Homo sapiens: one gene and its partners. The protein of the gene in region 1 purifies or fractionates together with the protein of each later gene. This does not show direct contact. Each region holds a gene or a part of one and is shown in the gene's direction. Other genes may lie near its edges.

What was found.
Region 2: the proteins of SP6 (region 1) and TRAF7 purify together in Homo sapiens (affinity purification with mass spectrometry; 3 studies listed by BioGRID and IntAct, with this or other methods). This does not show direct contact.
Region 3: the proteins of SP6 (region 1) and RMC1 purify together in Homo sapiens (affinity purification with mass spectrometry; 3 studies listed by BioGRID and IntAct, with this or other methods). This does not show direct contact.
Region 4: the proteins of SP6 (region 1) and CCZ1B purify together in Homo sapiens (co-immunoprecipitation; 2 studies listed by IntAct). This does not show direct contact.

The regions. Positions count from the first base shown.
Region 1 is NC_000017.11:47,848,145-47,856,042, reverse strand, and holds the start of SP6 (transcription factor Sp6), read left to right. Parts: upstream 1-4,879; 5' UTR 4,880-5,124; intron 5,125-7,556; 5' UTR 7,557-7,613; coding exon 7,614-7,898. UniProt on the Homo sapiens protein: Promotes cell proliferation. Plays a role in tooth germ growth. Plays a role in the control of enamel mineralization. Binds the AMBN promoter.
Region 2 is NC_000016.10:2,172,768-2,178,637, forward strand, and holds the end of TRAF7 (E3 ubiquitin-protein ligase TRAF7), read left to right. Parts: intron 1-414; coding exon 415-632; intron 633-713; coding exon 714-787; intron 788-1,020; coding exon 1,021-1,069; intron 1,070-1,153; coding exon 1,154-1,281; intron 1,282-1,483; coding exon 1,484-1,566; intron 1,567-2,343; coding exon 2,344-2,383; intron 2,384-2,533; coding exon 2,534-2,650; intron 2,651-2,732; coding exon 2,733-2,855; intron 2,856-3,066; coding exon 3,067-3,186; intron 3,187-3,281; coding exon 3,282-3,413; intron 3,414-3,497; coding exon 3,498-3,617; intron 3,618-3,792; coding exon 3,793-3,807; 3' UTR 3,808-5,362; downstream 5,363-5,870. Other genes in the region: CASKIN1 (caskin-1), read right to left, coding at 5,783-5,870. UniProt on the Homo sapiens protein: E3 ubiquitin and SUMO-protein ligase that plays a role in different biological processes such as innate immunity, inflammation or apoptosis. Potentiates MAP3K3-mediated activation of JUN/AP1 and DDIT3 transcriptional regulators.
Region 3 is NC_000018.10:23,498,828-23,506,515, forward strand, and holds the start of RMC1 (regulator of MON1-CCZ1 complex), read left to right. Parts: upstream 1-4,683; 5' UTR 4,684-4,791; coding exon 4,792-4,893; intron 4,894-5,543; coding exon 5,544-5,620; intron 5,621-7,356; exon of another isoform or gene 7,357-7,688. UniProt on the Homo sapiens protein: Component of the CCZ1-MON1 RAB7A guanine exchange factor (GEF). Acts as a positive regulator of CCZ1-MON1A/B function necessary for endosomal/autophagic flux and efficient RAB7A localization.
Region 4 is NC_000007.14:6,816,262-6,823,283, reverse strand, and holds part of CCZ1B (vacuolar fusion protein CCZ1 homolog B), read left to right. Parts: intron 1-919; coding exon 920-1,003; intron 1,004-3,342; coding exon 3,343-3,518; intron 3,519-7,022.

The DNA.
Region 1 (7,898 bases):
GGAGAGTTCCAGCTATCCCAGCTCTCCACCCTAGCAATGCTGTCATTTCCTCCATCCTGCAAGAACCACTTTGTCCCTCTCCCACTGCCCAGCCAACTCTGCGGAAGGAAGGAAGTGCCCCCAGCCCCCACTCCCAGCTGAAATCCTCCTTTCCTGGCAGACCTCACGGACTCAGATCTCACCTCCTACCACTCCCCTAGGAGAGCTGGGGGCCACTGTTTCCTGGATTATCCTAAAAGCTTCTGAGGCCGTGAGGACTTGGCAGCATCCCTGCTCCCTCCTTCACCTCCCCCTTTGGCACTGCCTGTCACCTCCTTTATAAAGCCTGGCTCTTTTATCACCGCCACTTGGCCCTCACTGCCGCCGCCAGCTCTGGGCTCCATGGACTGGTAAGAGAGGCTGTTCCCTGTCCAGTACAGGGGACCTCCACAAAGAGGATCAGGTCTCCACTCTAAAGTGGGGGTCATAGAGAAGGGTCTGGTTCTCTCTGAATTGGGAAGGGGGAGATAAGAGGGAGATCTTGGTGGGGTTTGCATGGAGAACTAAAGGGATCCCTTGGAGGTCTTTTGACTGGGCTGGGGTAGTCAGCCCAGTGGAGAAGTGGGGTAGGGATTCATAGCTGGGAACTTTATTTCGAGAGAAAGGAAGGGCAAATAAATGTTAATAGAAATACAGGGCACACACACTCACTGCCCTGAATGACAGAACACCTGCAAGGATAGTAAGGGAGAAACCACTATCCACATCCTATGGGGAACTGCATTTACGGTGGAGGAGAGAAGACACCCTACACTCAAGCCCACAGGTACACACAGGCATAATATGTACACACATTTGTAGATATACACACACCGACATACAGATGCACTATCCTCAGGTGGGTTCATCTTCTAGACTGAAAAGCGATGGTGGTAGCTAGGGATTTTGAAATTTATAATAAAATTAGTGTCCAGCATTGTGCTTGGCCTTAAGTAGACCCTCGATAAGTGTTTGTTGAATGAAATAAAGGATGAATGAAAGAAAACTATTTGACCCCAGCTTTAGGCTCTATCTGGTTTTCTAAGAATCAGGAGAGTATGGTGGGGAGAGGAGGGGAAATAAGGAATATGTTGGCATCCAGGGTCATCAGCTTGCAGGCTTGGAAGTGCAGCCCGAAGGTGGGAGTGGGAAATGGAGGAGAGGAGTGAGTGAGAAGAGGAAAACAGGACCAGACTCTGGTCTGGTCCCAGCTCTGCTTCTAACTTGCTACTAACGTCCCTGTTTTGGGGTTTGGTTTCCCTACCAGTAAAACGAGGGCTTGGACGAGACAATTTGGGGCTAGACCAGCTTTGATATTCTCATAGTGCAATCTCTACAGGACAGTTGAAGTTTGGAAGGGATCACAAGTGTAGAGTCTGACTTGTCTCAGCAATTCAAGATGGGATCAGTTTGTCCATTAGACTCAAGATAGGAGATGGCTTTGATCTAGGGATTCATTTAAGAATGCTGTTTCCTCCACCTTCAGGCTCTAGGGGAGCCAGACTTCCAGGGTCATCAATTCTGCCATATTGAGGCCAGATGGACTAGTAGGCAGAATACAGGCTTTGGAACCTGAGAGATCTGAACTCAGTTTCTTCTTCTGTCTTTTAACAACTCTGTAATCTTGGGTAGATCATTTAACTTCTTTGATCTTTGGCTTCCTCATCTGTACAACGGGAATAATAATAATTACTTTGCTGCATGCCCATGAGAATTAGAGATATTTGTGTAAAGCATCTGGAACATAGTAGGTGCTCAGTAAATAAATGCCGTTTGTGATAAACACGCAGACTAATGAGATTTCTCCAGGTACAAAGTGGATCACTGACTATAGATGAAGCTTGAGAAGAAGAGGGGTGGCAGGAATGGGGGTTGGACACTTGCAGGGGAAATCTGACTATTTATTTGAGAGAATGAGGAAGAGCAGCAGAAATGGCCCAAGTCCAAGACAGATCTCAGTTTATACAGGAGATGTGATGGGCTGTGTTGTTCAATTTTGAGTAGCAATAAGTATATGGGCAATGGGCTGTGGTGACCTTGCTCATTAAGTTAACATCAGACCATGCGCCGTCATTCGGTGGGAAAACATTTAGCAAGTGGGAAACCAAAAGGGCTGGAAGCAGAGGACTGCAAGTAGAGGGGGACTGGAGGAAAGATAGTGCCAGTACCCTGAGTGAGCAGCAGAAACCTAGGCAGAGCAGGAAATCAGAATGGCTGGGAGTTTCCAGAGACAACTGCATTGTTGTTGAATTTCCTGCTGATGAGCTGCAGGCAGATGGAGGGTCTTTGCTGGTGGAATTCCAGATGGCTACAGGTCTGGTTGGATCGGGGCAGGGCTAAAGGGGGCCTAGAGTGAAAGTAGCAGGGAGTGTCTACCATCCTCGGGCTGAATCCCTGTTGCTTTCCAGGGAAAAGGCAGAAGGGGCCAGGAAGAGAAGGCAATCTGATGCCTATAAATGGGAGGGGAACTTGGTCCCCTACCCAGAGTCAGACCCCTGCACAGGCTTTAGCACCTTAGGAACAGTAGATGCAGCACCAGCAGGCAGCTTGGAGGAGGAGGCAGGAATGCCCAGAGGTCAAATCAGGAACCAGAGTCCCCCACTGGGGGCTCTGTTTTGGACCTGATGAGTGTCTACTCCATTCCAGAGGTAGCTGTGAACTAGGATACAAACCCAACTGGCCAGGATTTGTAGGCTGAATGGATGGAGACAAAGCTGCGTTGATGAAGAGGATTGATTGTCAAATTAGCCATGGCCACAAAGATCCAGAGCAGTTCCTGTGAATCCACATCCAGAGCCCCAAGTAACAAGAAGGCAAAAAGCAAACCCCGACTGATCAGAAATCTCAATCCCCCGATGTCAGGCGGCATCTCCGGCTTCCAAATACCTGTCACTTCTCTAGCTTGGTGGCTGCTTTTACAGCATTTCACCAAGGAAGAAACTGAGGCTTAGAGGCACCTGACCTGCCAGGGTCAGTTTAGCAAGTGCAGGGCTGGGGCTAGAATTTAAATCCGTCAACTTCTAGTCCACAGGTCTTTGTGCATACACCTTAATCCAACCAATATTTACCTGGAACTGACTTATTTAATAATTATAACAAGGATATCTTCCATTTACCCGGCGCTTACCAGGGGCCCCTTGGGCTAAGCATTTTTAGGCATATCAATTCCTTTAAGCCCCCAGGAGACCCTACCAATGTGTACCCAGGTTGTCCGGATGAGGGAAATGAGCCTTAGAAAAGAGGGAGATGCACAGATGAATCCGACGTCGATTCTGGATAAGAACGTGTGCGTGTCTGAGGGGTACCATGCACATACGCATACACACATGGATTGATTTTCACCCCGCTTATGCACTCGGTTTAGCTATTTTTGAGTTACAGTTTGAGTGTGTCCCAAACGGGCATGCAGGACAGGTAAACCAATGGCGGGGGGGAGTAGGGGCTGTAGAGGCGAGATTAAATCAGCCTAAATTCAAGTATGAAATCGACTGTAAAGAGGAAAACGAAATTTTAAAAAGCCGACGGCAAAGCGCACAGAGGAGACGAATCTGAAAAATGAAAGAAATAGGGAAATTAATCTGCATTCCCCTGTGAAAAAAGGGGTCACATGGAGAGATCAACACTGCGGCATGGGAGTGAAGCATGGGGCCACCTCAGCGGCCAGGCAGAAGAATGCGTGGGTGGAGGACGGAACTTCCCTACCCACCGGTGCTTTGCGGGTCTCGGAAATGTCGACCCATCCAGATCTTGAGGGAAGTTTTTGTGAGCTCCGCGAGCGCGCTGAAATTTTACCAGAATATTGCACTGGGCATGTGAATTTTTCTCAAAGGAATCCAAGACCCCTCCCCAAAGTTAAGAACCTTGGGTTTAGTTATTCTGGTGAGAATTAGAAAGGAATGGTGGCAAGGGATAGCTCAATTCCTTCCAGAAGTGTCCCTTCCCAGGGCCATTCAGGCGCCTGCCCATTCTTCAGAACCGGGTGCTCGGGGGCGAGGGTGTGCGTAGGCTGAGCATTTCCCGAAGGACAGGAGGGCGAGGAGAGGCGAATTTGAGAGGTGGATTTCTTAGGCACTGGGGTTGCTACCTAAGGGGAGGGGCAGAGTGACAGCTGCTGGGACCTGGGACCAGAGTAGGGGGGAAGCAGAGACCGGTGGTGGGCAGAGGCTGGGAGAGGGGAGGAGAGGAGGTGGTCACCCAGAAAGGTCAGAGAGGGATACCCCGGAAGGGAGAGGGAAAAAAGGACGGGGAAGGGTGGTGGTGGAGAGAAGCGGCGCGGGGTGCGGGGGGTGAGGCAGGGCAGGGGACGGGGGTCGGGGGTCGGGGGAATGGCGAAGGAGGGCAGCCAAGACAAATTTCACACGGCCTAGGCCTAGAGGCGAACTGGAAACATACTTGGCGCTCAATCTTGTTTCCTTCTTTCCTCCCAGTTCCGGGGCAGGGCTGTCCGTTCAGAGAGGGTCAAGGGCCATCGAGGCAACCTAAGGGTTGCTGCCTAAGGGTGGCTCTGTCTCACCCCCAGGACCTGCCCCCTTATCCATTCCCCCTGGGTCTTAGTCCTGCGTCCTCTGCTAGACCGAGCTAGCTCCAGGGCAGTTTTCCACCCGGCGGGGCGGGTCTTAGAACCTGGGAATCACCCCACCCGGGCCCCTCTCCCTGGGAGTGGAGGGGACCAGGGAGGAGCGAGGGAGCGGGCGGCGCACGCCCTAGTTATCTTTCCTCCCCCACTCCCGCCCACCCCCTCCTCGCGGCCCTGGCTGGGCTCCGGTCCAGCCGAGCCCTCAAGGGTTAAAGGCGGCCGCAGGTGAGGTGGGCGGGGCCGCGAGTCCGGGGGAAAAAGCAGCGCTGGGGAGAGGATGAAGGCAGAGAGCGCGGGTGAGTCACGGGCGGAGCTGGCCTTGTTCGCTCGCTGGCTCCTGCCCGCCCTCCGTCCTCCGCCCTCTCGCCAGCGCTCACCTCCGCCGCCTGCCGCCTGCCGCCAGCCGCCGGGTCTGGCTCGCCCTGGGCTCCTGCCCCTTACCGCTGGAGAGCTCGCCGGCGCACAGGGCCTATGAGCGACCGTCAGTAGCGCACCAGCCAGCCGTGCCCGGAGCCCGCCGCAGCCTCGAGGTAGGAGCGCGGGTCGGGGTGGCCAGGGGTGAGCGCTACGGAGATTGTCTCGAAAAAACGCACTCCGAACGCGCCCCAGCCTCCTATGGCCTTGGGAGCGGGGTGGTCCTAAAGGATCTGAGAGGTTAGAACCCCGATGGAGGGAAAACTGGGCGGACGGGAGAGACTGGAGGGACCGAGGAGGCTGGAAACCGGGGCAACTGGAGCGACTGGGACAACCAGAGGACCGGGACATTGAGAACTGGGAGTACTAGCCGGTGATCCAGAGAGGCAGAGCCGAATGGGGCATAAGGGTGCACCGACTTGCCTTCCCACTTCGGGGAGCGAGAAGCCTGCGATGTACGCTGTGCTCTCTCCTTTCCTGAACTCTTTCTAGGCCTGGAAGTGAACCGGACACATACTTGGCACTCAATCCTGTTCCCTTCTTTCCTCTCAGCTCTGGGGCAGGTGGGTCAAGGACCATAGAGGCAACCTAAGGGTTGCCACCTAAGGGTGGCTCCATATCACCCCCAAGACCTGCCCCCTCCTCTATTCTCCTGGGTCTTAGTCTTGCATCTTCTGCTAGACTGAGCCAGCTCCAGGGCAGTTTTCCACCCAGTGGGACTGGTCTTAGAACCTGAGAATCACCCCGCTTTGGGTTTCTGAAATCTTGGTAGCAGGCCATTGCATCCCAGGCCTGGGCTCTCCAGCTCTCTGCCAGGAGAAGCCACTCTGGAGCCCAGATTATCCTAGCCTTCCCATCCTCCAGCCCCTGGGGCAGTTCCCAGGCACCAAAAGCTGTTAGGGTCCCTGGCTTCACAGCTCCCGCTCAGCCCCTTCTGTGCTGCCCCACCCCGGCCTGGGGCTCCTTTCCTGCAACTTCACCCTGTTTTCCTCTTGTGGTGAGGCAGCCGGAGCCTGAGTAGGTGCCCCCGTCCTCCTCTCCCTCCCTCTCCCAGGCTATCAGTGCCACCTCCCTGGTCCCAGAGGCAGGAGATGGTAGGGTCAGCTAAGCCCTGCTGTAGGAAGGAAACAATCCTGCCCTAAGTCACTGGTCTCCTCCCCCACCAGTAGAGAAGACCCAGGCACACAAACCTGCCCAGCTGAGGCACCAGGGCTTCCAGGCCTTAGGGAGAGGTGGTGAGAAAAGAGTGAACTTCAAGCCACAGATATGTGGTTGAGAAAGCGTTGGGGGTCTTTAGCGTTCTAAGGGTCTACAGAAAGATTGGTTTACAGAAAGTAACAGACTGAGAGTCCAGGAGTTAGGAGACCTGGTTTATTGAATGAATAAATGAACATCCTTGTCCAAGTCACTGTGCCAAGTCATTCAGTCTGCTTCCTTCTCTTCAAAATAAGAAGATTGGCCTGGAGCAGTGGTTCTCAACATTTGCTGCATATAAGAATCTTCTGGTGGTGGTGGGGAGCTTCTGAAAAATGATCCATGCCTAGGATGCACTTGCTTATGTCATCTTTTTGGGCAATTCTTGCTCTTAGGTTCTGTGGTTATGACTTCTCTTGTTGCCCTCCTCTTCCTGCACTCTGACCTTGTATCACTTAAAGGGGTGCAATTGTATCTTCCAGAGCTTGCTGTCAAGCTCTTCTCTGGGGAAGCCATTCCCTCCCAACTTTCTATCTGGGCCTCCCCTAGCATGGAGAGGAAGATGGGTAGCAGTCAGAGAGTTGCCTGGCACTGGTATGAGTCAAGAGAGGGATGGAAATTTGGTTTTCTCTGGTGGGGGTATCTCCCAGATTCCAGGGGTATCTGGTGGCCAGAAAGCTGCTCCCCAGGGAGGTGAAGTCCCTGCTTGAGGGAAGGGGGTGGGGGCATGTGAGTCGGTTTAGTGGGCCCGATGTGACCAGGCCAGGCGGGGAGCAGCGTAGACGGTGAAATGCTTTTCATTACTGAACATGCTTTGGGAATGGCATGAGAACTCTTTCAAAGACTCAGGACCCGTTTGAGGCTTTATGAGGGGCAGGTCACCTGAAGCTTTGGGTTTCAGAAATAGACCATCCCCTCTCCCATCTGTATCCTGAGTTAAACTGGGGAAGCTGAGATGTGTCTAGATCCTCCATTTGGGCTGACAGCAGGTCTGCAGGGGGAAAATGCCACTGCCCCTTGTGTTGGCCTGGGCAGCTGGGGTGGGGATGGTTCTAGCACTGTGCTGTAGGTGTATCTGACCTACCATCCTGGGAGTGGCCCAACTCTAGGGATGAGCTGGGTCATACGGCAGGGATCACCCAGAGGAAGGTAGACCTCCATCATCCTCTGTGCTTGGATGAGAACCTCACATCTTGGACCCTTCCTCGCACTCCCGAATTCTCTAAACTCATCTCTAGTCCTCGTTCAGAGGTGCATCCTTCTTTTACACCTGGGGCCAGAGAGGAGGACCTGGGTTAGGAGGGAAAGTGAGCTGGTTATTTCCCTTACTTTTCTGCTTCTTCGCCTCCTTTAGGTCCCGTCTGAGGTGCCCCTGACCGTCCCTGCCCTCACCCCACCCCGGATCCCGGCAATGCTAACCGCTGTCTGCGGCTCTCTGGGCAGCCAGCACACGGAAGCGCCGCACGCCTCCCCGCCGCGCCTCGACCTGCAGCCTCTCCAAACTTACCAGGGCCACACGAGCCCTGAGGCCGGGGACTACCCCTCCCCGCTGCAGCCTGGAGAGCTGCAGAGCCTCCCGCTGGGCCCGGAGGTGGACTTCTCGCAGGGCTATGAGCTGCCAGGGGCCTCCTCGCGGGTAACCTGCGAGGACCTGGAAAGCGACAGTCCCTTGGCCCCGGGCCCCTTTTCCAAGCTC
Region 2 (5,870 bases), on another chromosome or scaffold:
GAGGGCGTCCAGGAAGGCGGGCGTGGACGCTCCCGCAGCCGGCCCAGCATGGGCGGATTTGAGCAAATGCTGGGGTTGAGAGCTTTGGAGAGGGAGGTGGGGGTGGGAGGAGAGGCAGGAGCCCAGTTCTTCAGGGCAGGGAGGTGGGCAGGGAGGCTGCCAAGCAGCGTGGGTTTTATCCTCAGGAAGGGAGGACCCCTTGAAGAGCTCTGCGGGGGTGACGTGATGGGATCTCACTTGTGAAGCAGACTGGGGGTAGCTGGATGGGGAGGAGGGGCAGGACGGCAGGTGTGGGTGGGGGCAGCTGGACCTGGGGTGCAGCGGCCACAGGGCTGGAGCATTTGAGGGGGATTCTTGGGGATGGGGAGGCACCGGCAGGGACCCGCCAGGCAGGCAGCTGTCCTGTCCCCGCAGGTGCACGTTCATCGGGAACCAGGACACTTACGAGACCCACCTGGAGACTTGCCGCTTCGAGGGCCTGAAGGAGTTTCTGCAGCAGACGGATGACCGCTTCCACGAGATGCACGTGGCTCTGGCCCAGAAGGACCAGGAGATCGCCTTCCTGCGCTCCATGCTGGGAAAGCTCTCGGAGAAGATCGACCAGCTAGAGAAGAGCCTGGAGCTCAAGTTTGGTGAGGGTGGGCACCGGGGCAGGCAGGGGCCTGGCCACTGCTCCGGGCACCAGTGACACCCCCTCTCCTCCTGCTACTCAGACGTCCTGGACGAAAACCAGAGCAAGCTCAGCGAGGACCTCATGGAGTTCCGGCGGGACGCATCCATGTTAAATGTGAGCGGGCGGGGCTGGAGGGGCTGGGTTGTGAGACCCGGGGAGGCCGGCGGCCCCGGCAGGGAGGCCTCCCCTGGCCTTGCCTACACTAGTCAAGATCAGGGGTCTTGTGTGTGGCAGGGGCTGCTGTCACCCCTGCCCACCCCTGGCCCAGGGCAGCAGGGGCAGAGAGGCTGCACTGGCCCCACAGCAGCCCTGCCCACCTGCCCTCTGCCCTGCCCTTGGCCCTGCAGGACGAGCTGTCCCACATCAACGCGCGGCTGAACATGGGCATCCTAGGCTGTGAGTATGGACCCGCCGTGGCTCCCGCCCACCCTCCCCCCCGGGCCCCAACTGGGCCTTCACCCACTGCTCCCATCTCTGCAGCCTACGACCCTCAGCAGATCTTCAAGTGCAAAGGGACCTTTGTGGGCCACCAGGGCCCTGTGTGGTGTCTCTGCGTCTACTCCATGGGTGACCTGCTCTTCAGTGGCTCCTCTGACAAGACCATCAAGGTGGGCAGGGTCCTACCTCAGTCTCTGCAGCCTGGCTGGGCTGGGCACTGCCACATGCCTGGCACTGCCAGCCTGCCTATGGGTGGGACCTTCTGGGCAGGGCCCTCTCCCATGGGCGGGGCTCCCTCACTCATTCCTGTCATGCTGCCCCTTGACACTGGGCTGACCTTGCTGGGACCCACTGTGGCCCTGGTCTCTGCAGGTGTGGGACACATGTACCACCTACAAGTGTCAGAAGACACTGGAGGGCCATGATGGCATCGTGCTGGCTCTCTGCATCCAGGGGTGAGTCCAGGCACATGTGTGATCAGTGATTCCCAGGACAGGAGACGTGGCGCTGCCACCCCGTGGGCCGTGAGCCATGAGCTCGAGCCTGTGTAGCTATGTGTGTGCCCCACCTATAGGGCACCCTCCACCCGGAGCAGCACTGTTTCCTGGGTAGCAGTGTGTGGGCCCTTGTGTGGCCTACACCATCTCCAAAGTTGTGTGTTCCCAATACCTGGCGCAGCCAGCCTCCCAGCAGAACCTTGTCCTGGCCCAGGTGCACCTTGCGCAACCAGAAGATAGGGGGGACCTTAGGGGGTGAAGGCAGGAGCTCAGCTCTCCCCTGCCTGCAGCCAAAGCCCAGGGCATAGAGACTACGGAGCAACTACCTTGGCCACTTTCTTGCCTCCAGGTGGCCCGCCTGCCTCCTGTCTCCTATCGTGAGGCTTTGTGGGAGCGAGCAAGTAAGCGTGTGCGTGAGAGATGCTCGCTTTCAGGAGGCGGCAGCTTGACTGCCAGCAGCCGGCCCTGGGACTGACTCAGGGCTGACGGGTGGGTAATTACCTCCCAGCTCGCTGTCAAATGCTTTCCAGGCAGGCATCAGGGGCTGGCCCGCCCCTTCCAAGGTTCCCATGTGGAGACTGGAAAATAGGCTGACGCTTAAGGACACAGCAGTGGCCTTGGCCCTGGGCCATGCTGCTGGTTCCTGATGGCTGGCATGGACCTCGGGCCCTGCCAGGGCGGTGTCAGCATGGACACAGCTTCTCCCACCTTGACACATTGTCTCTGCTTCCCCAGGTGCAAACTCTACAGCGGCTCTGCAGACTGCACCATCATTGTGAGTGGGGCCTACAGGCGGGTGGGCAGGAGGCGGCCCAGGCCCGCCCCAGTCTGTAGGTGCCCCAGGGACGTGTTTCTCCCCGTCTGGGCTCCAGACTCCAGGTGGCAGGGCTTGGTGCCCTGAGGCTGCCGGTCCTTCCCCAATCAGGTGTGGGACATCCAGAACCTGCAGAAGGTGAACACCATCCGGGCCCATGACAACCCGGTGTGCACGCTGGTCTCCTCACACAACGTGCTCTTCAGCGGCTCCCTGAAGGCCATCAAGGTACGGGTGGAGGCTGTGCCTACGTGTGTGTCACTGAGGCGTCCCTTGCCCGCCCAGCCCACAGTTGCAGCAATCCCTGCAGGTCTGGGACATCGTGGGCACTGAGCTGAAGTTGAAGAAGGAGCTCACAGGCCTCAACCACTGGGTGCGGGCCCTGGTGGCTGCCCAGAGCTACCTGTACAGCGGCTCCTACCAGACAATCAAGGTGCGCTTGGGCACACCTGGTGGCCACAGGGCCTTGCCTCCTACCAGCACTTCCCAGGCCAGCACCTGGGGCTCCATCTGCCCTGTTCCTACCTTCGCACATCCCCTGGCTGGGTGGGTGGGCTGCCCAGCAGTGCTGAAGCCCTGGGGGTGCGGGGGCCCTGGGGGTGAAGCACCTGGCCTGGGACCAACTGGCCCACGATTACTCATAGATCTGGGACATCCGAACCCTTGACTGCATCCACGTCCTGCAGACGTCTGGTGGCAGCGTCTACTCCATTGCTGTGACAAATCACCACATTGTCTGTGGCACCTACGAGAACCTCATCCACGTAAGGCCTGGGCATCTGGGTGCAAGGCCAGACTGTGGCCCCGTCTCCCCCGCCTTGCTCAGTGTCTTTGACCTGCCTGTGCCCACCCCTCCCAGGTGTGGGACATTGAGTCCAAGGAGCAGGTGCGGACCCTCACGGGCCACGTGGGCACCGTGTATGCCCTGGCGGTCATCTCGACGCCAGACCAGACCAAAGTCTTCAGTGCATCCTACGACCGGTCCCTCAGGGTGCGTGCTGGCCCAGCGGTGGCAGGAGGCTCAGAGGGCTGGCAGCTGAGCTCCGGCGGGCCCTCACGTCCCATGTGCCCCCAGGTCTGGAGTATGGACAACATGATCTGCACGCAGACCCTGCTGCGTCACCAGGGCAGTGTCACCGCGCTGGCTGTGTCCCGGGGCCGACTCTTCTCAGGGGCTGTGGATAGCACTGTGAAGGTCAGTGCCCGTGGCTCAGGCCATTCAAAGGGGCTGCACAGGATGGAGCGGGGGTGGGGACGAGGAGCTGGCAGCCCCAGCACAAAGTGGTGGAGGGCAGGTACGTGTGGCAGGTGTGGCTGGGGCAGGGCAGCCGGCCGCAGGACATCCTGGTGAAGCAGCCCTTTCTCTGCAGGTTTGGACTTGCTAACAGGATCCAGGCCAGGCTGTGGTTTCCCCTGAACCAGCCCTGGACCTTTCTGAGCCAGGCTGGCCACATGGGGTGGTCTCGGGGTTTCTGCCTGCCCCGTGGGCATAGGTGGACAGGCTCTGGCAGCCGGGCAGTGCCCTCCCCGTCCCATGCTCGGCGAGCCTCCCTCTACTCGGCACTGTCCTTGCTGCCCAGCCCCTCTCTGGGTGCCAGGTACGACGCTTGCCCCGGCCCACCCTCCATCCCCACCCTCCATCCCCACCCTAGATGGAGCGAGGGCCTTTTTACTCACCTTTTCTACCGTTTTTAGACTGTATGTAGATTTGGTTACCTCCTGGTTGAAATAAATGCTCCACAGACTGTGGCTGTGAGTGGGGACAGCTCCTCGGGACAAGGGGGCTGTGTGTGGCCTTGAGGTTGGTGTGCACAGGCACTGGCTGCTGTGAGTGGGGGGGCATGGGGCAGTTTCCTTTGGTGGACCCCAGGACTTCGGCCCACTCCGGGGCCTCCCCTCCCTGCTAGGAGGCAACTCGTCACACCCAAGCTGCTGGCCTCCAGTCCCATCTCCCCCAACACATGTGCCCCCAAAAAGTGAGCCAGGCACCTCTGTTTCCTGCTGTTTATTGACAGCCGACGGCAGCGCCTTGCCCAGACCTCCCCTGCCCACCTGCTGGAGCCCAGCCTGTGCCGCCCTCTGAGGAGAGGCCTGGGGGGACAGCTGGGCACGTCCACTCGCAGGGAAACACGGGGTGAGACAGCAGGAAGGGGCCCTGCACGCCGGGACGCCACCTCCGCCAGCCGCCTCCACCCGCCCCACACCACAATCGCTGGTTTTCGGCATTTTTTAAATTTTTTTTTTAAGAAACGTCAAAGTTGTGCCCAACACTGTGGATCAGCAAACACGATAGAGGAGACCAGTCAGTACTTCTTGGAGGGGGCAGGAGGAGAGAGGAAAAGGGAGGGCGAGAATGACCACACAACACAGCCTTGGACCATGAGCAGAAGCGTCCGTGGGAACTCCACTGGGGTGGATGGGCTGCCTGCACAGCCCCTGGAGAGGGGGCCAGGCACACCCTCAGAGGAGCTGCAAGCCCGTGGCCTGGCCTGCTACATGCCCTGCTTCCACGTGGCTGCCACGCTGACACACCCACATTCACCAAACCCACCCGCGCCCTGGGACGCAGCCACGCCAGGAGGAGGACACGGCCGCCGAGAGCAAGGCACAACCTCGAGTTCTTGGGGCGCAGAGAACTTAGGAGAGAAGCACGGAGGAGCCCCCGGCAGAGCACCCGCCCCCGGGCCCCAGCCTTCCACCTGTGCTAGCAGCCTGGGGCCTCCACTCTGGCCGGAGGAAGGACCGCAGGCAGACAGCCTGGGCCTCTAACAGCTTTTGTCCGGAGCTAGACTTCGTGTCCTTTCAGTTGGTAAATGGTTTTCTATAGAATCAATAATATTTCTTTCTTTAAATATATATTTGTTAAAGTTATACCTTTTTGTTTCTCTGGGGAAATCCGCCTCAGCTCATTCCCAATAAATTAATACTCTTGATAGCTTATATTCTGGGGGTGCGGTGGGGCAGGGGGGCCCTGACCTTGGTCCCCTGTCCCTTGTGCTGCGCCCGAGCGGCTGGCCGGGCGTCCCGATGGGCAGTTCTGTGCTGGGCCCGGGCCTGTGCGCTGCCCCATCCCTGGTCCCGGGGCGCCCTCCCCTCCCGCGCGGGCAGGAGGCCCAGCAGGTATTGCACGGGGAGCAGCAGGTGGGGAGGACCCGCGGGCGCAGGGTCTGCCTAGAGCCCTTGGAGCCCCCGGCCAGGCGGTCCCCGGTGGGCGCCCCGGCCCGGGTCCAGGGGCCGGAGTTGTGCTTCTGCAGGGCCCTGCCCGGCCGCTCGCGCCGCGCCCAGACGCGCCCATCCTGAGGTATAGGTCAGTGTGCGGGGAGGGCCCGGGCGGCGCGGGAGGGCCCGGCCAGGCGGCGTTCACTCCAGCATGGCATCCAGCTGGTCGGCCAGGTCGTCGAACATGCTGCCGATGTCGTCCAGGATGCTGCCAGTGCTCTTTTCCGCC
Region 3 (7,688 bases), on another chromosome or scaffold:
GTCTTGCCCATGGCCAGTGTATTAGTCTGCTTGGGTTGCCACAACAAAATACCACAGACTGAGGTTGAAAACATTTATTTTCTCACAGTTTTGGAGGCTAGAAGTCCTAGATCAAGGTGCCAGCAGCGTTGCTTCCTCTGAGGCAGCTCTTCTTGGCCTGTAGGTGGCGCCTTCTTGCTGTGTCTTCACATGGGCGGCCCCTCAGTCTGTGTGTCTAGGTCCTAATCTTCTCTTATAAACACACCAGTCATACTGGATTAGGGTCCATCATTTTACCTTAACGGCCTATTTAAAGGCCTTATCTCCAAATACAGATGCATTTTGAAATACTAAGGGTTAGTACCTCAACATCTGAATTCTGGGGGGACACACTTCAACCCATAACATGCAGGCAGACCTCAATGCTGCTTGCAGACCCAAGGCGAACTGCACAACAATCAAGCCTGGCTCTTAGGACAAAAACATCTGCCAGAGTCAACCAAACTGAATTCTCTGGGAAGGACGAGATGCCTGGTGTCATAAAAAGACCATAGTCTTTTTTAAGTGTGATGCATGCGCACACAGGCACGCATACACACACGCGCACACACGCGCACACACTGCACTGCTGCCCTGTCCTTGGCAGACATTCCTGTGGGGTCATGTTCGAAATATGCACTTCTGTGGAGTAGCTTGGGTTTTCTTGGAAGTCTCTTTTTCTAAACTTGTACCTAAGCTGATGGCCTGTGCCTGCTTGGGCATGAGGGGTCGGAGTGGGGATGGGTCAAGACTGACTCCTGTTCACTGTGAAGTAGAGGAAGGCAGTGATAGCCAGACAGGGACGTGTGTTTAGGGAAGTCCTCTGTGTTTTCAGTTCTGTTTTTGTTTTGTTTTTATGATGGGAGAGATGAGCAAATATAAAGGCTGCTTCTAGGAGCAGGAGTGAGGAGAGGTTGCCTATATGAGAGAAACGGGATGGTCAATACTGTAGGTTTTTTTGAGAAGGTGAAATATGGAATTCATTTTTTAAATTTTTTAAATTTTTTTTTTTTTGAGACAGAGTCTCGCTCTGTCACCCAGGCTGGAGTGCAGTGATGTGATCTCTGCTCATTGCAACTTCTGCCTCCTGTTTATATAAACAGGCCAAACCCTGTATGTATGTATGTATTTATTTATTTTTGAGATGGAGTTTCGCTCTTGTTCCACTTGTTGCCCAGGCTGGAGTGCAATGGCACGATCTTGGCTCACTGCAACCTGCAACTCCCGGGTTCAAGCGATTCTCCTGCCTCAGCCTCCCAAGTAGCTGGGATTACCAGCACTCACCACCACAGCCGGCTAATTTTTTTGTATTTTTAGTAGAGACGGGGTTTCACCATGTTGGCCAGGCTGGTCTCGAACTCTTGACCTCAGGTGATCCACCTGCCTCAGCTTCCCAAAGTGCTAGGATTACAGGCATGAGCCACTGCACCCAGCCGAAAGATGGAATTCAAAGAAGTGCTGGTAAGTCACTGTGGTATTTGTGAAAAAATAAAAATAAAGAGGGTTTGGGCTAGGCGCGGTGGCTCATGCCTGTAATCTCAGCACTTTGGGAGGCCAAGGGGGGTGGATCACCTGAGGTTGGGAGTTCGAGACCAGCCTGACCAACATGGAGAAACCCTGTCTCTACTGAAAATACAAAATTAGCCGGGTGTGGTGGCGCATGCCTGTAATCCCAGCTACTCGGGAGGCTGAGGCAGGAGAATCACTTGAACCGAGAGGTAGAGGTTGCAGTGAGCCAAGATTGTGCCACTGCACTCCAGCCTGGGCAACAAGAGGAACAAGAGCAAAACTCCATCAAATAAATAAATAAATAAATAAATAAAAACAGGGTTTGGCCTTGGGCAGGATGGACCGTTTTCTAGAAGGACAGCCGTGGTGCGCTGCACAACTGGTATGAAGCCCAGTTTCCATCTGAAGTCCTCGATGTTCATGGAAATAGGGGCGAGACAGTCTGAGGAGTGTGAAGAAGGCCTGAAAATATCCTTGCAGAGAACAGGAGAGACAATGACTGGGACAGCCAGGCAGGGCTGAGGGCCCATTTGAATTTCCCGCAGTGCCCTCTGTCCTGTTGTGTGACCCCTCCAGCAGTAGGTACTGGGAAAGCAGGTGGCTGAGTTCATCCAGGACTGAGGCTCTGCCAGACAAGAACAGTGCAGCAAGGATGTTGAAGGTAATGGCAAAAAATAACTGGAATGCAGAGAAATGAAATCAAAGCTGATGAGGAGGGAAGGGAAGAGAGGAGAGGGCAGATAGACTTGGGTAGAGAGGACAGAACAATGACAGGGCAAACTGGTGATGTTGAGGAAGAGTCACAGGGAGCAGCTAAACAAGCCAGCTGCAGGGATGGCACTGTGTGGCTGGAGAGCAGGGTTCTGGAGTTATCGGTTTTTCCATGTGTGACATGGGCCTGGGTGGGTGAGGCTGAGTGTAGAAGTCTTACATTTCCAGTCTTGTCACTCCTCTGATGAGTTTCAGACCAATATATCCATCTGCCTAGATGTCATTTCTCCTTGGATTCACATGCTCCAAACCAAACTCCTGGGCTCAGACATCAAAGCCACTCAAAAATAGCTCTCTGAGAAATAGAACTACCATATGATCCAGTAATCCAACTTTTGGGTATAGACCCAAAAGAATTAAAAACAGAATATTGAACAGATATTTGCATAGCTTTATTCACAACAGCCAAAGGTGGGAACAACCCACATGCCCATCAACAGACGAATGGATAAACAAAATGTGCTATATACATAAAATGGAATCTTTTTCGGCCTTAATGAAGGAAGGAAATCCTGACACATGCTACATGGATGAACCTTGAGGATATTTTGCTAAGCAAAAGAAGCCAGACACTAATGGACAAATACTATAAAATCCACTTATATGAGATACTTAGAGTAGTCAAATTTAGGGACAGAATCAGATTTGCAAGATAAAAAGTTTCTGGAAACGTATTTCACAATAATGTGAATATGCCTGATACTACTGAACACCTCAAAAAGGGTTAACACGGGGCCGGGCGCGGTGGCTCATGCCTGTAATCTCATCACTGTGGGAGGCCAAGGTGGGCAGATCACCTGAGGTTAGGAGTTGGAGACCAGCCTGGCCAACATGGTGAAACCCGGTCTCTGCTAAAAATACACACAAAAAAATTAGCTGGGCATGGTGGCAGGTGCCTGTAATCCCAGCTACTTGGGAGGCTGATGCGGGAGAATCGCTTGAACCCGGGAGGTGGAGGTTGCAGTGAACCGAGACAGGGCCATTGCACTCCAGCCTGGGCAACAAGAACGAAATTCCGTCTCAAAATAAAATAAAATAAACAATAAAAATAAAGGGTTAACATGGGGGCTGAGCACGGTCAGCGAGAGAATCACTTGAGGCCAGGAGTCTGAGACCAGCCTGGGCAACAGAGAACGCTGTCTCTACAAAGCATAATAATAAAAAAATGAGCCAGGTGTGGTGGCATGCACCCGTGGTCCCAGCTACTTGTGAGGCTGAGATGGGAGGTTGAGACTGCAGTGAGCCGTGTTCGCATCACTGCTCTCCAGCCTGGGCACAGAGACACTCTGTCTCTGAAACAAACAAAAAAAGAGGGGCTAACATGGTAAATTTCATGTTTCTTATCAAGTAAAAAGGCTTGCTGACCCACAATCTATATTAGGTTTCCCTGTTACTAGCAAGGAGTGAAGGATGTGCTATCCCAAAATATGTCCAAAAATTGGTATATTATTTTGAGCTAAAAACACCGGAGAAATTGTAGTTTCAGAAAGGGCTAGATGACCTGTCGTTTCCTACAGGGAATAAGCAGTAAAGATTCCTCTGGGAGTGGCACCCTCTCTGTACCCGGGTCAGAAAATAGCCCTTATCACCAGAGACTGGGAGTTGGGGCTGCAATGGACCTGAATAAATGAACTTCCCAAGTAACACTTACCTTCCACTAATTTTACACCCTCCCCAATATTTCTCCTAGTGACTCTCTTAGAAATGTATCGCCCCAGCCAGATGCCTTTTGTGCTTTCTTCTCAAATGCATCATTCTTTGTCTAAAAAGTATAAAAGCATCTTGCTGTGGCCACTTCTTCAGACCTCACTCTCTTTTGAAGGTCCCCATGAAAAACTAATAAAGTGTGTATGCTTTTCTTTTGTTTATCTGCCTCTTGTCAATTCGGTTTCTGGCTCCAGCGGAAGAGCCCGCAGAAGCGCTGAGGGGACTGGAGACGGTCTCTGGCGCCCCTACACCTGCTCAGTGAGCCTTCAGCCCCTTCTCCCTGACGAAGCTCCCAGAGGCTGGAACTCTGGCGCGGGAGGCACTTGGGAAATCCTCCCGAAAGCAAGGAGGAGCCTTTCCTAGACCGGGAGCGGTCCCACGCGGGGGTACAGGTTGGGGCAGGGGCGACCGAGCCGGGCACAGGAACTCGCAGCAGGGTAGGGTTGGCGGCTACGCCGCCCTCGGTCCGCGGGGAACCACGCGGGCTTCCGGGTCACGCCGCCGCGTTCCGACCGCCCTCGGGGAGAGGGGAGGAGCCTCCAGCGCCGGGCGGGGCGTGGTTAAGGCCGGTGGGCCCCACCGCAGCCAGACGCTGCCCGTTTAAGCGCAGAGGGCCGCGGGTCACGTGGTGGGCGGGGTGGGGGCGTGGCACCAGGAAGCGGCGTCCGCGCCGGGCCCAGAGCCGCAGCCGCAGCCGCCGCTACAGTCCGGGCCGGGCTCCACCGCGCATCCTGCTCCACTCTGGCGACCGCCCCCGGGGCCCCCGCCGCGGGCGCGGCGCCCGCCATGGGCGAGGAGGACTACTATCTGGAGCTGTGCGAGCGGCCGGTGCAGTTCGAGAAGGCGAACCCTGTCAACTGCGTCTTCTTCGATGAGGCCAACAAGCAGGTCCGGCGCGCCCGCGCTTCCTCCCCCGCGCGGCCCTGCCGGGGTCGTGGGCGCGCCAAGGCCGGTCCCGCGCGACCAGGCCCGAGCGTCCCCTCCTGTCCTGTCCCGTCCCGTCCCAGCGCGGGAGGCGGCGCGCGCTCCTTCCTTGTTGGGTGGGCTCAGCCGCGGCCAGGTGTCCTCGCAGGTGACCTCGGGGCTGGACCCCCGAGCCAGCTGCGCGGATGCAGTGGCCCCGTGGCCAGTGTCTCAATTGTTGGCGCGCCCGTCTTATCTAGGCTTCTTTTGTTGTGTTTGTCATTAGTTACACTCGTAGTCAAGGGTTTAGACGTCGAGATTTTCATTTTCCTTGAAATTTTGTAAAGGGGGAAAAGACTGTACTTCAGGCGTATCAGCGGCGCCGATGCGCGAACCGGTGTTAGAACTTGGAGCCTCGGGAACCCGACCCGGTGTCACGGTGGCATCCTTTTCGCTCTCTGCTCTTGGTTTTTAAAATTCACCTGAGCAGCCAAACATCTGTACCTTGATATGTGCCGTGTTACTTTAGTTGAACCCAGGGTGGTGTATAACAGAAATAATCGCTTGCGGGTTGGCTTCTGAGTTTAGATCCTTTCAGAGTTCAGGCTGTTAACCTTGCTGCTTTTCCCTCTCAGGTTTTTGCTGTTCGATCTGGTGGAGCTACTGGCGTGGTAGTTAAAGGCCCAGATGATAGGAATCCCATCTCATTTAGGTAATGGTATAGACACTTTCAGATCATTTTGTCATGTAAACAGAATGATGTTTTTCTAATTCAAATGGTTTTTTATAATTTTGTCATTTGGTCTGCCCTAAGAGGCCTGAAGTCTGTGTGCGCACATGGAATTCCTGTCTGTAGGGAGGGTCTTCGTGGCACTTACTAGCACCTCTTGTCAGAGTGGAATATCTGGAGCAGTTGATTTGGGAGCCAAATACTTCAAAAGTGGGGCAGCCACTTCCTAGCACTGGAAATTAACAAGTCAGCGTGATGATGTGCCCATTTCTGGTTTGTTCACAGAGGAGGGCGTTCATTTCTTTAGCCCAGGTCTTTCCAGAGTGGCAGGTGGAGGAGATTCATTGTTTCTCATGTAATAATACAAGAAAATCATGGCTTCCACTATACTTAAGGTGACTGCATAGTCCCAGTTCGCACTGTTGAACAGGTTTAATGATCAACAGCAGGGCCTTTCACTTTCAGAAGTGTCTCGATTTGGATGATAAGCTATCTGGCCACTGTAACACTGGTGCTTACAGAAGGTGAAAGTATAATGTAGGCCCTCAATTCAGTAGTGACTTAAAAAATTTTACTGTTGGTCTGTGTTAATGAGAAACTGTCCTTTTTTGAGAGGGAGCCTCCCTCTGTTCCCCAGGGTGGAGTGCAGTGGTGCGATCTTGGCTGACTGCAACCTCCGCCTCCCAGGTTCAAGTGATTCTCCTGCTTCAGCTTCCCAAGTAGCTGGGATTAGAGGCGCCCACCACCACGCCCGGCTAATTTTTTTTGTATTTTTAGTAGAGATGGGGTTTCACCGTGTTGGCCAGGCTGGTTTCGAACTCCTGACCTCAAAACGATCCGCCCGCCTCAGACTCCCACAGTGCTAGGATTACAGGCATGAGCCGCTGCACCCGGCCTGAGCAAGGTTTTAAAGTATGGATGGGGTTCGAGCATGGTGTTTTGGGGAACTCTGGGTCTGTGTAACTGAAGGTTACATAGGGTGTCTCCACAGGGAAGGGGAAATGGTGGTGGTGTGGCCACTGGCAGGGGCCAGCTTGAACCTTACATATTCTCCTATGAAATTAGAGCTTTATCTTCTTATTGAAACTTATCAGGTGGGGTGTGGGATGATCATGTCAGTGTTTGGCAAGATCATGCTGTTCACAGCACGGAGGCTGGCTTAGTTGGGAGCCTGTCAGAGTTAGGGATGCTATGGAGAGTAGCAATCAGCGAGCCATGTGTGGTGAAGAGCAGCGCTCTGGTGGTGTAGAGTGGCATTGCATAGGCAATCAAGGGATACTTAGGAAGATGGGTCTCTCGTAAGACCCGGGGGTCGGTTGGGTGTGGAAAACGAGTGAGCCCGTGATAATCTAGATTGGGGGCTCTAAGAAGTTTGTGGGTGGGGGGAAGGTACTGAATTTAACTTAAAAAGAGTTTTTAGACTGGGCGCGGTGGCTCATGCCTGTAATCCCAGCACTTTGGGAGGCCGAGGCGGGTGGATCACTTGAGATCAGGAGTTCGAGACCAGCCTGGCCAGCATGGTGAAACCCTGTCTCTACTAAAAATACAAAAATTAGCCAGGTGTGGTGGCACGTGCCTGTAATCCCAGCTACTCGGAACGCTGAGGCAGGAGAATCACGTGAACCCGAGAGGCAGAGGTTGCAGTGAGCCGAGATCATGCCACTGCACTGTAGCCTGGGCAACAGAGCAAGACTCCGTCTCAAAAAAAAAAAAAAAAAGATTTTTAAAAGCAGCTTTATTGAGGCATAGTTGACACATAATAAACTGTACACACTTAATATTATGCAATATGTGAGTTTTGACATGTATACACCCATGAAACCATCACCACAATCAAGGCAATGAACATGTTCAGACCCCGAAAAGTTTCCTTGGGCCCTTCTGTAATCCATCCCTTGAGTTTTTTTTTTTTAAATGAATTTTTAATTTAAAAAATGTATGTATTGGAATAGAGACGGGGTCTCACTGTGTTGCTGAGGCTGGTCTCGAATTCCTGTGATCCTCCTGCTTCATCCTCTCACAGTGCTGGGATTACAGGTGTAGGCCGCTG
Region 4 (7,022 bases), on another chromosome or scaffold:
GTCCAACCACTTACCCCTATCTCTAGGCTCCAGGGTTGTTTAAAGAGAAGTCTATAAATGACTGCAAAGTGACTCTGTATTTGTCTTAGAGAAGAAAATAATGAGGCCTTTGAAACAGGTAGTGAGGTTTATGCCTACATTTATTCAGTAAGTATTGAACTCCCTTCTCTTTTCTCAGCCTTATAGTAGGAATGTGTCCCCATTGATGAAAAAGTGTATCTATGTGCTCAAGGAACATACAGAATGCAGATAATTTTATGATTTAAAAGTTTCAGTGAGGCAGGGCACAGTGGATCACACCTGTAATTTCAGCATTCTGGGAGGCTAAGGTGGGAGGATTGCTTGAGCCCAGGAATTCAGGACCAGTCTGGGCAATATAGCAAGACCCCATCTCTACAAAAAAATTTTATAAAAGTTAGCCAGGTATCATGGTGCATGCCTGTAGTCCCAGCTACCTGGGAGGCTGAGGTGGGAGGATCGCTCGCACCTTGGAGGTCGAGGCTGCAGTGAACTGTGATTGCACCACTGCACTCTACCCTGGGCAACAGCGAGATTCCATCTCAAAAAAAAAAAAAAAGGATAAAAAGTTTGGTGATTCCATTTATTAACAGAACACTGAAAAATAAAAAAACAGAAATGTGGGTGATATTATGTATGTAAATTGAAACTTAAGGGTAAGTTGAAATTTTTGAAAGATGCCTAGAGCAATTAGGTGGTTTCATAAAACAGCATCACTTAACAGTATTTTTTGTAACTTACATTTTTAACTCAAGTTTTCTCACGTAAATATTCTCTGTTGGAAAGAACTGGGAGATTTAATGAGCTGAATTAATAATCTAAAGGAAAAAAAGAACTTGTTATACTGAAAAAGTGAGCATAGGAAACTGATTTTTTTTTCTGCAATCTTTTACCTCACTAGCTTTTTAATGGTACATTTCTGAAAGCCATGGAAGACGGAGGCGTCAAGCTTCTGAAAGAAAGATTAGAGAAATTCTTCCATCGGGTAAGTATTTTGAATTTCATTTATAACTTTACTAAGCATTCATCAGGTTTTTAGAGAAATATAGACAGACAAGTTTGTTTCTTATCTACAAAAAACCCAGAACTTGAAAGTGGCAAAGAGCCTGAGACAGACCGTCGCAAAACTGGAGCAGCGAGGAAACGCATGAGGCGTGTGCTCTGGAACCTTCCCTCCAGCTGTGGTGTAAGGCAGAGCTTCCTGCGTTTGCCCGGGGCTCTTAAAGGGTCCTGGAGACATCGTTTGGCCTCCCTGTGTTTTACCTGCATCTGTCCTTCTGGGCTTACTCAGCAGCCATCTTTTGTGTGATAGATTAGTTGATAAGGAAAACTTAATTATTGGAGTTGCACAATCTCAGGGATTGGTTCTGTTCACTAAACGGGCGTAAACTGTCTTGATGTAGGTAAGAGTTATTGGCCTTGACAGACTTTGTCAGATTAGCGATTGGGGAGATTTGTTCCAAGTGCTGTCCTCTTTCGTTGTAATTGAATTTTGCATGTTTCACCCTACCTTGTCAAGCTCAGTTTATCTTTTTTTTTAAAAGGAAACAAAGAGACAGGGTCTTGTCTTGGCTGTTTTGCCCAGGCTGGTTTCAAGCGATCTTCCCTCCTTGGCCTCCCAAAGTGCTGGGGTTAAAGGCGTGAGCCAACTCGCCTAGCCTAGTTTATCTTGAAGCAACAATTCTCAATTTATTTTCTTCTGAAAATACCTTCTGTATCTATTTTTGAATTCGACTTTCTAAAACAGCTTTCATAGCTATTTTTGAATTTTTTTGTTTCTCTGAATTACTTTTCTTTGTTGTTTTGTCATTTTAATGACCACAATTATCCACTCGCATATTATCTCCTGGTTTCTGTTCTTGTCCTCATTTCTCTCTTACCCGTCAACATATGGATAGAACTGTTGTCCTGAGTACATATCATTTAGACATGATTTTAGTATAAGATGGCACTCTTGGCTGGGTGTGGTGGCTTACGCCTGTAATCCCAGCACTTTGGGAGGCCGAGGCGGGCAGATCTTGAGGTCATGAGTTCGAGACCAGCCTGGCCAACATGGTGAAACCTCGTCTCTACTAAAAAATACCAAAAAACTAGCTGGGCGTGGTGGCGCACGCCTGTAATCCCAGCTATTCTGGAGGCTGAGGCAGGAGAATCGCTTGAACCCCAGAGGCAGAGGTTGCAGTGAGCCGAGATCGCACCGCTGCACTCCAGCCTGGGTGACAGACCAAGACTCCATCTCGGGGGGGAAATAAAGATGGCACTCTCTGTAGTATTAATGGATAGATCCCTCATTAGGTTAGTCTAATTTGAAGAGCATTAAGGCAGGGAGTTAATTTTTTTTTTTTTTTTTGAGACAGAGTCTTACTCTTGTCACCCAGGCTAGAGTGCAATGGTGTGATCTTGGCTCACTGCAACCTTAGTCTCCCAAGTTCAAGTGATTCTCCTGTCTCAGCCTCCTGAATAGTTGGGATTACAGGCTACCACGCCCGGCTAATGTTGTAATTTTATTAGAGACGGGGTTTTGCCATGTTGGCGAGGCTGGTCTCAAACTCCTGACCTCAAGTGATGTGCCCGCCTTGGCCTCCCAAAGGGCTGGGATTACAGGCGCGAGCCGCTGTGCCTGGCCAGGAATTAAATACTTGAAAGTGCTAGCTGGGCACAGTGGCTCATGCCTGTATTCCCAGCGCTTTGGGATGCCTAGACACGAGAATCACGGAGGCCAGAAGTTCAAGACCAGCCTAGGCAACATAGCAAGACTCTGTCTATACCAAAAAAAAAAAAAAATTTTTGGCCAGGCGTGGTGGCTCACACCTCTAATCCCAGCACTTTGGGAGGCTGAGGCAGGCAGATCACGAGTCAGGAGATTGAGACCATCCTGGCTAACATGGTGAAACCCTGTCTCTACTAAAAATGGAAAAAAATAGCTGGGCATGGTGGCAGGCGCCTGTAGTCCCAGCTGCTCAGGAGGCTGAGGCAGGAGAATGGTGTGAACCTGGAAGGCGGAGCTTGCAGTAAGCTGAGATCGCACCACTGCACTCCAGCCTGGATGACAGAGCAAGACTCTGTCACAAAAAAATAAATTTAAAGCAGTAAAACACAATACTGAATAAACATTAAGTAGATAGTTTGAACTTTGTATCTTGGAATTGGTACTGAGTTGACACTCAGTCACCCATGTCTTCACCACGGCCTCATTGTTGTGCTGTTTGCTAGTATGTAATTGTACCATAAATGTGAGTCTGACATAAGATTATTTTCAGTTATCAAGGAGCATTATATTCAGTGTACTATTAGTAAATTTTATGCCTTATTTTTTTTCCACAGTATTTGCAAACGCTACATTTGCAGTCATGTGACCTACTTGACATTTTTGGTGGAATCAGCTTCTTCCCGTTGGATAAAATGACTTATTTGAAAATCCAGTCCTTTATTAATAGAATGGAGGAAAGCCTGAATATAGTCAAATACACTGCTTTTCTCTATAACGATCAGCTCATCTGGTAGGTACACCCCGAGGCATGGTATTAAAAGAAGAAATTAAGATAATAAAAACAGCAGTGACTGGATTGATGACAGGTTGTCAAACAGGAACTTGCAGCGGGGAGGATGGGTAGGAAGCATCTTCATAGATATTGTCAAAATAAAGCAGTGATTATTTAAAGCAGAACTAGGGTGATTTGGGTTCAAATTTCCAAGCAGAGGAGTTTAAAACTGGCTGCATGAAAGATGAAAGGCTGGGCACGGTGGCTCACACCTGTAATCTTAGCACTTTGGGAGGCCAAGGCAGGTGAATCACGAGGTCAGGAGTTGGAGACCAGCCTGGTCAACATAGTGAAACCCTGTCTCTACTAAAAATACAAAAATTAGCTGGGCGTGGTGGTGCATGCCTGTAATCCCAGCTACTCAGGAGGCTGAGGCAGGAGAATCACTTGAACCCGGGAGGCGGAGGTTGCAGTGAGCCGAGATGGCACCACTGTACCCCAGCCTGGCAACAGAGAGAGACTCTGTCTCCAAAAAAAAAAAAAGAATGTTCCTATCAAGTAAGATTTAGGAATCCTGTTTTTATTTTGGAGTTTTTTTTTCTGAAATGATAAATGTTAAAAGCAGAATTTTTATACCTTTTTTTTTTTTTTTTTTTTTTTCTTATAGAGATGGGGTTTACTGTGTTGCCCAGGCTGGTCTCAAACTCCTGGCCTCAAGCGATCCACCCGCCTCAGCCTCCCAAAGTGCTGGGATTACAGGCACGAGCCACTGCACCTACTTTCTTTTAAAGAAACTAGATTTTTTTTAATCCAAGAAATCCAAAGTGTTATATAAACCAGGAAATTACCTGCTATCGTGAAACTAGGTTTGTGTCCTGCAGTAGGAACAACGTGGGCACAAGACTGCCCAGCATATATGACCCCTGAGAGCTGGGTGGCAACCGAGGTTGTGCACATTTGGCCTAGAGTAGGTGGACAGAAGTCATCAAGGCTTGCAGCTGTTCCGGGACCCTCAAGTTTTATGTTCCCATTGACTAGAGCCCTCTTTCTTTCTTTCTTTCTTTCTTTCTTGTCTTTCTTTCTTTCTTGTCTTTCTTTCTTTCTTTCTTTCTTTCTGTCTGTCTTTCTTTCTGTCTTTCTTTCTTTCTTGTCTTTCTTTCTTTCTTGTCTTTCTTTCTTTCTTTCTTTCTGTCTGTCTTTCTTTCTGTCTTTCTTTCTGTCTTTCTTTCTTTCTTTCTAACGGAGTCTCACTCTGTTGCCAGGCTGGAGTACAGTGGCGCGATCTTGGCTCACTGCAACTTCCCCTTCCTGGGTTCAAGCGATTCTCCTGCCTCAGCCTCCCAGGTAGCTGGGATTACAGGCATATGCCACCATGCCCGGCTAATTTTTGTATTTTCAGTACAGACAGGGTTTTACCATGTTGGCCAGGCTGGTCCTAAACTCCTGACCTCAGGTGATTCGCCTGCATTGGCCTCCCAAAGTGCCGCGATTACAGGTGTGAGCCACCGCACCTGGCCTAGCCCCGTTTCTTAATTAGGGGTGTGGCCATATGGTACTACTATAAGGTAAGTTCAGCTAATAGAAAAGGCAAAACTAGTTCCCCTAAAATTTACCTTCCCTGCCAAAATCTTGTAGCTCCATTTTAAGAAGAGAAACAAGTTACTGTAAAGAAATTTGAATCCAGTTAATAAACAACTTGGTGGGTTTCCACATGAACTTTATCTCCTAGGAAGACAACACAAATTTCAGGTGAAACCCATCTACTTTTTTTTTTGTTTTTGAAATGGAGTCGCTTTCTGTTGCCCAGGCTGGAGTGCAGTGGCATGATCTTGGCTTGCTGCAACCCCTGCCTCCTGGGTTCAAGCAATTCTCCTGCCTCAGCCTCCCGAGTAGCTGGGATTACAGGTGAGTACCACAACACCCAGCTAATTTTTGTAGAGACGGGGTTTTACCATGTTGGCCAGGCTGGTCTCGAACTCCTGACCTCAAAGGATCCGCCCACCTCGGCCTCCCAGTGCTGGGATTACAGGTGTGAGCCACTGTGCCCGGCCTCCACCTACTTTCTAATTTGACAAATAGTTTATCAGGCAACCTTACGCTGTACTGACTCAGCTATAGTTGCTTTCTGTGATATGTACACAATGTTACTAAAGTGAAATTCTGCTGTGAAATGTAGGAGATGGGAGGCTAGTTGTGCTTCTGTAGCATCAGGTCTGCAGAGGGATGGCTCCTCCACAGATGGAAATGACAGGACGTGCTTGCAAATCACACGCAGCCACGGCGATAGGGAGATGTCGTGTGACAAGCCAGAATCCAGCAGTAGTGGCCCATGGCCTTGCTTCCACCAAAAAGAGAAGGGTAGCTGAGATTCTGATCTCTGGGACAGAACACAAGCCCCGCCATGGGTGCAAACTCCTGAGAGTGAGGAAGAGGGAAGGCTTAGAGCAGAGGGTCTTCCAGGAGCTCATTCTGGGAGACCCTGGAGCCAGAGTGACCAGCAGCGTTGGCCCTTTGAAGCCTGGAGTCACAGGACAATCTGGCGCCCAGCTCTGGGGATCCTGTTGGCATCGTCATCTTGGAATAGCATCTGAGGGGTTGAGCAGGGCACAGCTCTGGTGGCTGCACAGAACTGCTCGGTTGTCACCTCCAGTGTGCTCGTGGGGAAAGGTCAGTCCCAGGAAGTAGCAACAAAAATAACCTTCAAGAAAAACAGCCTCTTACTCCAGGCGCCAACGCTTACACCTGTCATCCCAGCACTTTGGGAGGCTGAGGCAGGAGGATCACTTGAGACCAGGAGTTCAAGACCAGCCTGGGCAGCATAGTGAGACTGTATCTCTACAAAAAATGCAAAAAAAAAATTAGCTGGGCATTGTGGTGTGCACTTAGAGTCCCAACTACAGAGACTACAGAGGTTGAGGCTGGAGAATCACTTGAGCCTGGAAGTTTGAGGTTGCAGTGAGCTATGATAGCACCACTGTACTCCAGCCTGGGTGACAGAGCAAGACCCTGTCTAAGAAAAAGAAAAACAGCACGTTTTGATGGAATTGCTTATTCCAAAGCTGTTATATTAAATACCAAAAAGACTTTTAAGCCAGGCGTGGTGCACATACCTATAGTCCCAGCTACTGGGGAGGAGGAGGCAGAAGGATCGCTTGAGCCAGGAGTTACTTGGAGACCAGCCTGGACAATATAATGAGGCTCTGTCTCTACCAAAAAGTGGAAAAAAAACATTTGTCACAAGCAGAGTATATATTACCCTTATGTATTTACTTAGTATATTGCTTTGATTTTTTTTTTTTGAGACTGAGTCTCATTTGCTTGGTTGCCCAGGCTAGAGTGCAGTGGTGTGATCTCAGCTCACTTCAGCCTGCGCCTCCCAGGTTCAAGCGATTCTCATGCCTCAGTCTCCCAAGTAGCTGGGATTAGAGGTGTGTGCTATCAGGCCTAGCAAATTTTTATATTTTTTAGTAGAGACGGTGTTTTGCCATGTTGGCCAGGCTGGTGTTGAATCCCTGACCTTAG